4 linked regions of the Homo sapiens genome follow. The protein of the gene in region 2 purifies or fractionates together with the protein of the main gene of each other region. This does not show direct contact. Each region holds a gene or a part of one and is shown on either strand. Other genes may lie near its edges.

What was found.
Region 1: the proteins of ZNF746 (region 2) and EIF3E purify together in Homo sapiens (affinity purification with mass spectrometry; 2 studies listed by BioGRID and IntAct, with this or other methods). This does not show direct contact.
Region 3: the proteins of ZNF746 (region 2) and EIF3B purify together in Homo sapiens (affinity purification with mass spectrometry; 2 studies listed by BioGRID and IntAct, with this or other methods). This does not show direct contact.
Region 4: the proteins of ZNF746 (region 2) and ZNF212 purify together in Homo sapiens (affinity purification with mass spectrometry; 3 studies listed by BioGRID and IntAct, with this or other methods). This does not show direct contact.

Annotation. Positions count from the first base shown.
Region 1 is NC_000008.11:108,200,716-108,203,717, forward strand, and holds the end of EIF3E (eukaryotic translation initiation factor 3 subunit E), read right to left. Parts: intron 2,789-3,002; coding exon 2,686-2,788; intron 2,403-2,685; coding exon 2,268-2,402; intron 1,209-2,267; coding exon 1,170-1,208; 3' UTR 501-1,169; downstream 1-500. UniProt on the Homo sapiens protein: Component of the eukaryotic translation initiation factor 3 (eIF-3) complex, which is required for several steps in the initiation of protein synthesis.
Region 2 is NC_000007.14:149,487,810-149,491,309, forward strand, and holds part of ZNF746 (zinc finger protein 746), read right to left. Parts: intron 1-3,500.
Region 3 is NC_000007.14:2,361,327-2,364,826, forward strand, and holds part of EIF3B (eukaryotic translation initiation factor 3 subunit B), read left to right. Parts: intron 1-1,318; coding exon 1,319-1,438; intron 1,439-1,743; coding exon 1,744-1,801; intron 1,802-2,305; coding exon 2,306-2,434; intron 2,435-3,045; coding exon 3,046-3,203; intron 3,204-3,500.
Region 4 is NC_000007.14:149,242,651-149,246,150, forward strand, and holds part of ZNF212 (zinc finger protein 212), read left to right. Parts: intron 1-3,500.

The DNA of each region.
Region 1 (3,002 bases), on a different chromosome or scaffold from region 2:
TGGGAGGTCTCCATGCTCTTTGAATGGCAGATGCAACCTAACTACCGTAGTCTCTAAACTGAGTATGGAAGGTGGCCTGATCAGATGTCAAATAAAAGAACAGTATGTACCTTTTTATCTTTGAACCTCCTCCTTGAGAGCAGCAACAAGTTTCTGTTATCTGACTGGCTGTCAGTTCAACCAAAGTGAAAAATCAAGCCACTTCTATGTAAAAAAGGGACCCAGTGAGGGCTCTGTAGCTCTTAAATACCTCCAGTATCCAGTAAACAGTATGTCTGTATTTAACATTTGACACTTATAAAATTCAACTTATATGCCTAGTCTCCGTAACTATACAGTGAGTGACTGAGGAGCCACTTTTAAGAAATTAAGGAACAACAGTTTTATTTGTAATAGTACCAAACTGGAAACAACTAAAATATCCTTCAATAGGTACATGGTTAAACCACATGGCACATCAATACCAGTTAAACCACGTGGCACATCAATACCATGGAATACTATTTGGCAATAAAAAAGGAATTAACTACTGATCATATATATATATATATCTATCTCTCAACTTGGATGGCTCTCAAGAGCATTGTGATGAATGAAAAAAGCTAATCTCAAAGGTTGTGTATTATGTAATTCCATTTATATAACATTCTCATAATGACAAAATATAGCGATGAGGAACAGATTAGTGGTTCCTAGGGTTAGAGTTGGTTGGGAGTAGGTATGGCTACAAAAAGGTAGCATGAGGGAGATCATGATGATAGTTCTCTATCTTGGCTGCAGTGATGGTTACACAAATCTACACGTGATAAAATGGTAGGGAGCTATTTGTACACACATTGTACCAATGTCAACATCCTGGTTTTGATACTGTACCATAGTAAGACAAAGTGAAAAAATTGAGGGAAACAGGGTTCAGCCTACAGGGACTTCTCTGTACTATTTTTGCAAATTCCTCTGAATATAATTATTCCAAAAAAGAAAGTTAAAAAAACACAAACTTGCACATGCAAGAAAACTGACAGCAAGATAAAATGAATCAATTTTATTCCAATTCTTCAAAATTTATACGTAATATGTTGTTTCCAAAATGTAAGTCACCCTTTATATAATAGTTTTATTATTTCATCTTTCTTTGATAGTTTTTTTTTTCATCTTTTCTTTATGGTTCTTCAGTAGAAGCCAGAATCTTGAGTTGCCCAGTTAGGAGCCTAAAATATGCAAAAAGAAATCAACACCGTGAAAAGAAAATACTTTCGGAAAAAAACTAACATAGAAGAAAGTAACACAGCATTTACTTCAGCACTATAGTCTCTTGCCAAACCATTCTAAGATCTTAACTCCTGCAATTACTAGATGTCAGATGTCCCACTCAGGACAAAACAAACACCAAAATTATTATCTGGTATAGCTTTTGGCCAATTAAAATATATAGCAATAACAGTATCATTAATACTGGAACAATAAATGATACAAATTAATCCTAAAGCATACAGAAAAAAACATCATATGAAAGTTACTTTCTAGGCTCAGTTATTCTAAACTTGGCTAAAATATGCAACTTGAATTCTAATGCATCCTTCTCATTTGAACTAAAGGATTATTCTGCGGACACAAATTTGTTCCTAAAATTTCAATCAAATGGGGTCTCTGCATATCCCACAACTGCTTCCTAATGACTTCCTACCCTCCAGTTACACATAATCATAATGTCTAAACAACACAGTTTAGGATTCCAAAATTATAAGGCCATTCAAGTTTCTTCAATCTCTAACATGCAGGATCTCTATCAAAATGGGAGATTAATTTTTGATATGAATATCAGATGAAAGATAATGAAATTTGTATAAGATCAGCACTAATACATATAATAAGATCAACATTTTTACAGAATTATTTCTTTAGATTTAGAAAGAATACACATTTCGAACACTTGAAAGAGGGCTACACATGTAAGTTATCATCTGCCAGTATCAAAATGATGTGTTGAAAACCCTGAGGAAATGAGTTAATGAAGTCACACAGGAAGAGTCAAAGCAAAAGAAAAATAGTTATAATAAACTAGGAACACAATTTCTTTTTCAGTTTCTATGTTTAATGCATATAATACATCTAAGAAAAAATTTTCTGTTTAGTAATTTCTTAAAAATGTTCATATCTTTAAAGAGAAAAACAAAATCAGCTACAACTCATCAATACACTTTGAAACTTCATGTAACAATTACATGGTTGCTAAACCCCAGACAGAATAGAAGATGTGTGGTTCTTACCTCTGACCTGCTATTCTGATTAAGTTTCTTCTCAATATTCATGGCCAACATCTGGCTTCTAAAGGAAAGGCTTTTGGTCTTTTCAATCACTTGCTGATAGGGTGAGACTGCATTGTTACCCATAACCACATGACCCTAAAAGGAAACACAGGGAAATTGATCCTATAATGTTAATGACTGAGTTTCTCAGGTAAGTAAAAAGCATGACATACCTTTGCGCATATTTTAATGCACTGTATAGAGATGACAATATTTACCAAGGAAGAAAAAAAATAGGAGGCTTCTGTTGCCTTCAAAGAACTGTTTTACATTAAAACAAAATAAATTATTAAAGGAGGTAATAAAATGTCCTAGTTAAGAATTCCCAAAAGTATAATCAGGAACTGATAGTATGTAGCATAGCTAACATAATACTCACTAATTTAGAATCAATCTTGGCATCCAGTCTTGCATTTCTAATCAAATTTACAATCCACCTTTCAGCTTCTTCTGGAGTCATGTTCAATTTATCTGCCAACATGCTAATGAAAAAGTAAAAACAGCAATGTTAATTAACTGGGCCTAAAAACTTAGTTTTATGTACACAGTGTTGACTCACACTCTGCATAGATACTTTTTGGTATTTCTGGATCACCCTTCTCTTATATACCATGACCCCTACTGTCTGATTTGTTCATGTGCTTGTGCCTATTGACTTGTACTATGCACGACCTATTCCATTCACCAACTGGACTG
Region 2 (3,500 bases):
AATGTTGTCATGAGAGCAATTCTCCAGAAATTAGACTGTAAAGTCAATGCAATTCCAATCAAATTTCCAACAGGATTTTCTTAGGAACTTGACATACAGATCCCAAAATTCATATAAAAGAACAAATATCCAAGAATAGCCAAGACAGTTTTTTGAAGAACAAGCAGAGAAGGATTAGTCTACTAGATATCAAGGCTTATTATGAAGCTAAAAGAGCAAGCTGTTGGTGCAGAGACTGACAAAGAGACCAATGACACAGAAGCAAGCACCCAGAAACAGACTTGTGCACATGCAGAAACCAGCTCAGGACAGAATCGCATCACAAATCAGTGGAGAAAAGCTAACACATTCAGCAAACTTTGTTGGAAAATGAGACCATCGTTGTGGGAGAAAAAACTGAAACCCTCCCTTGCAAGCTACACAAATTTTAATTCTAGATAAATTAAAGACTTAAATTTGAAAAGCAAAACTTTTAAAAATTTATAAAAAAAATAGAGAAGAGTATCTTTCTGACCTTGAGTGAGGTAAGCAAGGATATCTCACTACAGAAAAAGCACAGATCATAAAGGAAAAGACTGACATGTTTGACTCTTTCAACAGTGAAAACTTCCATACAAGAACTACAACGTTAAAGACCTGCCACCGACACGGAGAAAATGTTTGTAACACAAATAATAGACAAAGGATTTGTATCTAGAACACATACAAAGAAGCCCTGAATCAAGAAGAAAATGAAGAATATCTCAATAGAAAAACAGAAGACAACTCACTGGAGAAGCAGCCAAATAATCGTATAAAAAGGGCGTGCAACTTAAGGGGGAAAATACAAGTTGAAACGAGAGGCCATCTCACCCCCATCAGGTCGGCAAAAATGTAATTATGGAAACTGGGCAGACGTTAGGAAGCAAGTTCTAGGAGCACCCGCTGGCACTGGGTACCCCTGGGGAGGGCCATACAGTAACGGAAGAGATGAAATCAAGCCTACGACGTGGTGAGGCCACCGCTGGGTCTACTCCCTGGAGCAGCATCCCCACAGGGCCACAAAAAAACAGGCGCAAGAACGCTCACTACAGTATTGCTTGTGAGAGTGAACAATCAGAAAAAGCTTAAGTGCCAATCAGTGGAGGAATGGAAAATAAGTTACAATATAGTTGCTTCTGGAATATTAAGCATCTGTTAAAAGGAATGAACTTGATCTACATGTATCAACATGGATAAGTCTGAAATACAGAATAATGAGTGATAAATATAATGACATCTATGTAATTTTTCAGAACACAAAAAACCGTATTATATATTGTTTACAGCTACCAAAGTACACAGCAGACGTTTTAAAATGTGGATAGAAAGAATAAACAGAAAATTCCTAGGGAGGCCTGGGAGACCTAAAAAGGAATTTAAATGCTATCAGAAATACATTATTTCACACACACACACACACACACACACACACACACACACACACGTTTTAAATTTTGAAACAGCATACATTCAGCAAATAGTTATTGAATTCCTACTCTGTACTAGGCAATACTCTAGGTTCCTAAAATGATTAAACAGGTAAAAATTTTTATACTTTTGAAATTGACATTCTAATGGAGGAGACCTGACATACGATGAATCTATAAATAGGAAACATATATATTATGTGACACTGTCTAACACGGAAGACCCAAAGCAGGAAAGTAGGCCTGGAGTCCTGGGTGGGGAGGGCCTGCAGTGCCGATGACACGAAAGGCCTGCAGGTGGGACCTGCCTGAGGAGGATTCCCAGTAGAGGGCACTGCGAAGGCCCTGGCACAGGGCGGAGGGAACAGCACCAGGGAACAGCACTCTGCAGCTGGGCAGAGTGAGAGAAAAGTGGAGGTGGTGAGCTGACGGTGCGGGTCAGATGGAAAGCCAGGACTTGGGTCTAAAAGGGATTACTCTGCTGGGCTGAGGCAAGACTGGGGGATCAGGGCAGGAGGAGAGGGGCTGGCAGGAGATGACGGGCCTACGTGGCAGAGTAGAGGGGACAAGGCCAAGTAAGAAGACAGACCATTCAGGACCACGGAGGGCCCTGGTAACCGAGGTTGGAGAGGTTTTGGTGGAAGGGGTAACAGAGTGGGGGGGAAGGTGCAGGAGACAGCAAGCGCAGATGTCCCCAAGGGCTCTGCCACAAAGGGGAACAGACAAGCGGGCAGTGGCTGCCGGGGTAGAGGTCAAGGCAGGATTGCTTGTATTGCCCTTGAGAAGATGGCATGAGGTGGGATCTGGTGCCAGATCGAAGTGGGGCTTTGGCTGGAGGGTTGACAGTTTAGCAGTCACAGAAGTGAAGGCAGAGAAGGGGGCACTGGTGCAGGCAGATGGCGTGGAGAGGGCTGTGTGAGTGGTGCGTTTCTCTTTTAAAAAACGGGTTAAAATATAAAACTGTTCTCAGCTGTGCACCATACAGAAACAGATGAGCTAGGTTTGGCCCTCAGCCACAGTTTGCTGGCCCCTGGGCTAAGGAGACACGGTGTGACTGTGTGGCAGAGCGCCCACTGAAGTCGCTGGTCATGAATGTCACGTGACACCAGCAGCCAGCTTACCTGGTTCTCTGCAGCCACGTGCAGCTGCTTGGCTGCAGGTGCAGAACACCGATGGATTTCACTAAGTGGATACAATGAACAAAACAGGGGCAAGAGTGCTGAGGGTGTGTGTAAGGGGGGACCACAATGGTGGGCATGGAGGGAAATGAGGATGAGTCAGGGCAGTGAAAAGGCAGCAGGGTCGATGGCTTGCAGGTCTTGAAGGACTGGAAAACTGCTGGAATCAGGACACCAGACGGAATTGAAGGGACGGCAGGAGGCGGCCAGGGAGTGGTGTGCTGGAGATGGAGATGGTGGGTATGGTAAAGTCACTGTCGTCACAGTCACGGATGGCTGTGGGATGGGTTGGGGGGGCACAGGACAATCAACAAGGAGGCTGCCATGGCCAAGACTGAGGGCAGGAAGAGTGTTGAGAAGAGAGGGAAGGTCTGCAGAAGTAGCAAAAAGACAAGGCCTGGGACCCAAAGGCAAGGTCTCTAGAGAGGGATTGAGGCTGGCAGAGGCACAATCTGAGGGGTGAGGACCCTGTCCCAGTGGGCCTGGGCTCAAGACAGAGGCAGGGAAGAGGATGACAAGCACTCAGAGGGCTGCAGTCCCCTGGAGCTCAGTCCGAGCAGGGAACACTCAGGACCTGGCGGGTCTGCTGAGCCCTGAGTCCCACAAGGCTCAGTGGAGGGATGTGCAGGAGGTGAGGAGAAGGGGAGGTGAGGTCTCACAAGGGGATGGGTCAGGCCAAATGTGGCAAGGGATGAGCTGGGAGTCCTGGCTTCTCAGACAAAGGGGACAGGGATAAACGCCACACAGATCCCTGCCAACAGGCTCAGGATGGACAGTGGAGTTTGTGTCTACTCATCTTGTCTACTGGTGGGTAGAGGCCACGGATGCTGCTGAACATCATACGGTGCAGCTAGAGAGTGTTACAGGGTCTTAC
Region 3 (3,500 bases), about 150 Mb from region 2:
GCTGCTGCATTTTCTGTGTTGGGCAGTCAGTTGAAGGATGGCCTCTTGACCCTCAGTTACTCGTGTTATAATGAAACATTCTCTGAGGTTCTTTCTTTCTTTCTTTTTTTTGAGTCGGAGTCTCGCTCTGTCGCCCAGGCTGGAGTGCAGTGTCGCAATCTCGGCTCACTGAAAGCTCCGCCTCCCAGGTTCACACTATTCTCCCGCCTCAGCCTCCCTAGTAGCTGGGACTACTGGCGCCCGCTACCACGCCCGGCTAATTTTTTGTATTTTTAGTAGAGACGGGGTTTCACCATGTTAGCCAGAATGGTCTCGATCTCCTGACCTTGTGATCCACCCGCCTCGGCCTCCCAAAGTGCTGGGATTACAGGCCTGAGCCACCGCGCCCGGCCTCTCTGAGCTTCTTTCTAATCTTGCCTGTAATACACAATATTAGACTACTTTTAAGTTTTTTTTGTTTGTTTGTTTGTTTGAGACAGTCTCACTCTTGCCCAGGCTGGAGTGCAGTGGTGTGATCTCAGCTCACTGCAACCTCCGCCTCCCGGGTTCAAGCAATTCTCCTGCCCCACCCTCCCAAGTAGCCGGGATTACAGGCGCACACTACCACGCCTGGCTTGCTTGCTTGCTTATTTATTTATTTATTTATTTATTGAGACAGAGTCTTGCTCTGTCACCCAGGCTGGAGTGCAGTGGCACGATCTTGGCTCACTGCAACCTCCGCCTCCCAGGCTCAAGCAATTCTCCTGCCTTAGCCTCCTGAGTAGCTGGGATTATAAGCATGTGCCACCATGCCCGGCTAATTTTTGTATATTTAGCAGAGACAGGGTTTCACCATGTTGGCCGGGCTGGTCTCGAACTCCTGACCTCAAGTGATCTGCCCACCTTGGCCTCCCAAAGTGCTGGGATTACAGGTGTGAACCATTGCGCCCAGCCAAGATTTTTTTTTAAACAGCTTTATTGAGATAATTGATATACAGTAAATCTGCATAGTTTTAAAGCGTACAATTTAATACATTTTGATGTGTACATATCACGAAACCATCGCCACAGTCAAAATAATGGACGTTTTGATTAACTTTTCTATAATTATGATAATGAAACTAGAGACTTCGGATCTTCTGGTTAGGATTTCCCTGTCACTTAGGAGCTCCCTGGCTGTGGATCTGTCCCCCGTGTGACTGCCTTAGGCTCGAGGCAGGAAGAGCAGCACAGATACTCCTGGCACCGAGGGCTTGTCCGTGGAGAGGGGTGGGGCGGACAGCGCATACCTGCCTAGCCTTACAGTGTGGGTATGTGCCAACGGCCCTCTCTCACTCAGGTATATTTTCCTGGAGTACGCGTCCCCTGCCCACGCTGTGGATGCTGTGAAGAACGCCGACGGCTACAAGCTTGACAAGCAGCACACATTCCGGGTCAACCTCTTTACGGATTTTGACAAGTGAGTTCAGACTTGGCCACAAGGAAGTGGACGTTGACGTGCAAGTGACTGGCTGTGTGCGGGTGGCTTGGTGCTTCTCGGTGCTGGTGTCTGTCAGATTGTTCACATCCTTTCTGGTCAGGCTGCCGCAGAGCCATTTCACAGCCCTGCCCCACACTTCTGGCCTACAGCACCCCTCCCTGTTATGCCAGTCACAGCCCTGGGGGCGGGCAGGCAGGAGCACAGCAGGGCCATGCTGGAGCCCCCACGAGTTGCTCTTTCTAGTCGTCAGGGCGTGGGGCTCAGCAGTCTCCTTTCTTCTCCAGGTATATGACGATCAGTGACGAGTGGGATATTCCAGAGAAACAGCCTTTCAAAGACCTGGTGAGTGGCCTGAAACCTACATCTCAGTGGTTTAAAGAAATGCTGCTGGGTGTGGTGGGTCACACCTGCAATCCCAGCACTTAGGGAGGCTGAGGTGGGAGGATCGCTTAAGCCCAGGAATTCAAGACCAGCCTGGGCAACAAAGTGAGACCCCCGCCTCTACAAAAAGTAAATAAATACATACATTAGCTGGGCCTGGCATGCACCTGTATTCCCAGCTACCTGGGAGGCTGAGGGGGGAGGATCACTTGAGCCTGGGAGGTTGAGCCTGGGAGGTTGAGGCTGCCGTGAGCTATGATTGTGCCACTGGACTCCAGCCTGGGCAACAGCGTGACTCTGTCTCAAAAAAAAAAGAAATGCTAGACGGTGTCTTGACTTGAGGTTAGGGTGTGACTTGGGAGTTAAGATGTGGACTGAACTTGTCATATCTTTAAGAGCAATAGTTGTGAATGAGTTTTTTATTAAAATTAATGAAATGTTATATTCCTTGTCTTTGTTTTTAAGGGGAACTTACGTTACTGGCTTGAAGAGGCAGAATGCAGAGATCAGTACAGTGTGATTTTTGAGAGTGGAGACCGCACTTCCATATTCTGGAATGACGTAAAAGACCCTGTCTCAATTGAAGAAAGAGCGGTGTGTATTTGCTGCTGCTGGGGGCGGGGACTCACCTCTCCTGTATTTCCTTAACAAAGTGGAACTTTGTTTCTATCAGAAAACTGGAAGAGCAGGTGACGTTATATTTTCTTTGAGATTACTTTCTGAAAACAACTTCTTTTATTCCTCTTCCAGCTTTGAAGTAAATCCTGAGAAGTGAACAGGCTTTGTGTATTTCACTTAAGAGTTTGCAGAATAGGCCGGGCGCGGTGGCTCACGCCTGTAATCCCAGCACTTTGGGAGGCCAAGGTGGGTGGATCACGAGGTCAGGAGATTGAGACCATCCTGGCTAACACGGTGAAACCCCGTCTCTACTAAAAATACAAAAAAATTAGCTGGGCATGGTGGCAGGCACCTGTAGTCCCCGCTACTCGGGAGGCTGAGGCAGGAGAATGGCATGAACCTGGGAGGTGGAGCTTGCAGTGAGCTGAGATTGCGCCACTGCACTCCAGCCTGGGAGACAGCGAGACTCCGTCTCAAAAAAAAAAAAAGTTTGTAGAACAGATTCATTGTAGGATAAATTCATTGTAGGAGGGGTCTTTGTGTTTGCCATTTTGTTGTATTAACGTTGGCACTGCCTTTTTCTGCAGAGATGGACAGAGACGTATGTGCGTTGGTCTCCTAAGGGCACCTACCTGGCTACCTTTCATCAAAGAGGCATTGCTCTATGGGGGGGAGAGAAATTCAAGCAAATTCAGAGATTCAGCCACCAAGGGGTTCAGCTTATTGACTTCTCACCTTGTGAAAGGTAAGCTGCTAGAAAAACACAGGGGAGTCTATGCATTTCACCCCATGCCAGCCTTCTACAGGTGATCTTTCATTTTGTAGCATTTCAAACTTAGTAGAAAAATACGGGAGTATGCAGAACGCTAATAAGCTTTTTACTGAGATCTTCTCACATTTGGTTGCATTTACGTCATCATCTCCTATACAGATATTTTTTCCTGAGCCATTTGGGAGTGAGTTGAAATAACATGTCCCTTTAGCCCTGAATGTGTATTCCTAGAAATAGGATTTTGTTAGTGTGACCATAGTGTGGGTACTG
Region 4 (3,500 bases), 250 kb from region 2:
TATGAGAAGATGTGATGATGCATGGAAATGGTTAAATCTAAACAAATAGTGACTTAATAAAACGTAACAATTTCTTGTTGTGTTAAAAACAATTAAAATACATGATGGCATTGATGTAAATATGAGGAAGAGATGATCAGAACTAAAGTGTTTAAAGGGCTTTGTTAAAGGGCCTTCTATGTATGTTTCCCATAATTTCTAGGATACTTGCTAAACAACTCGAAATTGGTCGTATAACTTACAGATCAGAAAGGGGGATAATGGAATAAGAAAAAATTAATGTAAAAGAAGACAAGAAAGTAGAGAAGAAAGATGGGATAAATAGCACAAAAAAGGTAAAAATAAATCAAAGCTAATGAACAATTACAATAAATGTAAATGAATGAAATGTTCAAGTTAAAAGGCATAGATTGTCAGGATGGGGGAAAAATCCAACTAGATGGTTTAAAAGAGTTACAACCGGCTGGGCGTGGTGGCTCACGCCTGTAATCCCAGCACTTTGGGAGGCAAAGTTGGGTGGATCATGAGGTCAGGAAATTGAGACCATCCTGGCTAACACAGTGAAATTCCGTCTCTACTAGAAATACAAAAAATTAGCCAGATGTGATGGTGGGTGCCTGTAGTCCCAGCTTCTTGGGAGGCTGAGGCAGGAGACTGGCGTGAACCCAGGAGGCGGAGGTTGCTGAGGCAGGAAAATCACTTGAACCTGGGAGGCAAAGGTTGCAGTGAGCCAAGATTGCGCCACTGCACTCCAGCCTGGGTGACAGAGTGAGACTCCGTCTCAAAAAAAAAAAAAAAAAAAAAAAAAAGAGAGAGAGAGAGAGATACAACTAAAAGATAAGGATATAGAAACAGTTGAATATAAAAGGTCATGAAAAAATATGCCAAGCAAATACTAATGAAAATAAAGTTGACAAATATATTTAGTATCTTTAGAGATAGAAGGCTCCTACTACTTTTGTAATGGTAAAAGACTCAATTTACCAGCTAGATACAAAATTTCTAAACCTGTATGCACCTAATTACATAGCCTAAAAATATATAAAACAAAACTGACAGAATTGCGAGAAAGATTCACTGTTATAATAGGAGATTTTAATACAACCTTAGTATTTTATCAAATAGAAAAGACTTATAAGGGTGTAGTGCATCCAGTAGAACTTCCCAAGATGATAGAAATGTTCTGCTCTGCACTGTTTAATACAGTGGCCACTAGGCACATGTGGCTTTTGAGCACTTGAAATGTTAGCTAGTATGATTGAGGAACTGAGTTTTAAATTTTATTTATTTATTTTGAGACAGACTCTCACTCTGTCACCCAGGCTGGAGTAGAGTGGTGCAATCTTGGCTCACTGCAACCTTGCAACCTCTGCCTCCCAGTTTCAAGTGATTCTTCTGCCTCAGCCTCCTGAGTATCTGGGATTACAGTCATGTGCCACCACACCCGGCTAATTTTGTATTTTTAGTAGAGACAGGGTTTCATCATGTTGGTCAGGCTGGTCTTGAACTCCTGACCTCAAGTGATCCGGCTGTCTTGGCCTCCCAAAGGGTTGGGGTTACAGGCACGAGCCACTGTGCCCGGCTAATTTTATTTAACCAGCCACATGTGACTAGTGGATATTATATTGGAAGCACAGGTACAGAAATGATTATTTTTATTTTTATTTTTATTTTTTTTCTGAGACAGAGTCTCTCTCTGTTGCCCAGACTGGAGTGCAGTGGTGCGATCTCGGCTCACTGCAAGCTCCGCCTCCCGGGTTCATGCCATTCTCCTGCCTCAGCCTCCCCAGTGGCTGGGACTGCAGGAGCCCGTCACCACGCCCGGCTAATTCTTTTGTATTTTTAGTAGAGATGGGGTTTCACCATGTTAGCCAGGATGGTCGCGATCTCCTGACCTCATGATCCGCCCACCTTGGCCTCCCAAAGGGCTGGAATTATGGGCGTGAGCCACTGCACCTGGCCAGAAATGATTTTTTTAATCCATATATCTATCAGTATATAATATCAAAGTGTAGAGACAAAATGAAAACAAAAGAGAGGAGGCAAAAATAAAAACCTATTGGGAATGAAAATGTGTGCATTCCCATGTCTATTGGTTGATGCTGGTGTGTAGACTGAGATTGTAGGTAAGGCCGTTGAACAGAACACTTCATGCACCCTCTTCATGTGGCTTGGGATTTCTCAAGGGATTCTAGCACCTGGCTGCCTGTGATTTGCCCCACTTGACAGAGAGTGGAGCAGAGACGAACCATCCATGTGCCACCCTCCTTTAACTGCAGATTCACATGCAAAGTAGATGATGATGTCTTAAGCCACTAAATTTGGGGATTATTTGTCATACAGGAGTTGATGGTTGGAATAGATACCTAGGGAAAATGTTAAAACATTGAAAGATATTAAAAATGGAGTCTCAAAAGGCTGGGCATGGTGGCTCATGCCTATAATCCTAGCACTTTGGGAGGCTGAGGCAGGTGGATCATTTGAGGTCAGGAGTTTGAGACCCGCCTGGGCAACATGGTGAAACCCTGTCCCTACTAAAAATACAGAAAAATTAACCAGGAGTGGTGGCACACACCTGTAATCCCAGCTACTTGGGAGGCTGAGGCAGGAGAATCACTTGAACCTGAGACAGAGGTTGCAGTAAGCTGAGATCATGCCACTGCACTCCAGCCTGCAGCCTGGGCGACAGAGCGAGAGACTCCATCTCAGAAAAAAAAAAAAAAAAAGGATTTGCATACTATGTTTATGAATTGAAATTCATCCTAAATGTGTCACTTTTCTGTTGGGTGGGGTGACTCATGCCTGTAATACCAGGACGTATAATCGTGCCACTGCCCTCCAGCCTGGGTGACAGAGTGAGACCGTGTCTTTATTTATTTGAGACAGAATCTCTCTCTGTCACTGGAGGGAAGTGGTGTGATCATGGCTTCCTGCAGCCTCAATCCCCTGGGCTCAAGTGATCTTCCCACCTCAGCTTCCTGAGTGGCTGGAACTATAGGCACCTGTCATCATGCCTGGCTAATTTTATTGTCTTTTTGTAGAGATGGGATTTCACCATCTTGCCCTGGCTGTTCTTGAACTCCTGGGCTCAAGCTGTCCTCCCGCCTCAAGCCTCCCGAAGTGCTGGGATTACAGACTCGAGCCACTGTGCCCAGCCATAGATTCCCCAAGTGGGATTGCTAGGTAAAAGGGTTTTTAATGACTTGAAATTTTTCTTCCCCTAAGAGTGTGTAGTATTTTTCATTCCTTCCAGGAGTGTTATGAGAGTCAGTTTACCACATTATAGTCAGCTCTGAATGTTATTCTTTGTGTCTGTTTCATGTTTGTCAGTCTGATGGGTGAACGTGCTTTCACTTAGTTATATTTGGATTCCTGATTGTAAGGTGGTTGTGTTTTCATTTGTTTATTGACTGCCTGCATTTCCGCTTCCATGAATGATTTACAATCTGCAGTTTTATTTTGGGGTTCTTGACCTTTTTCCACTTCATATTCTGTTTACA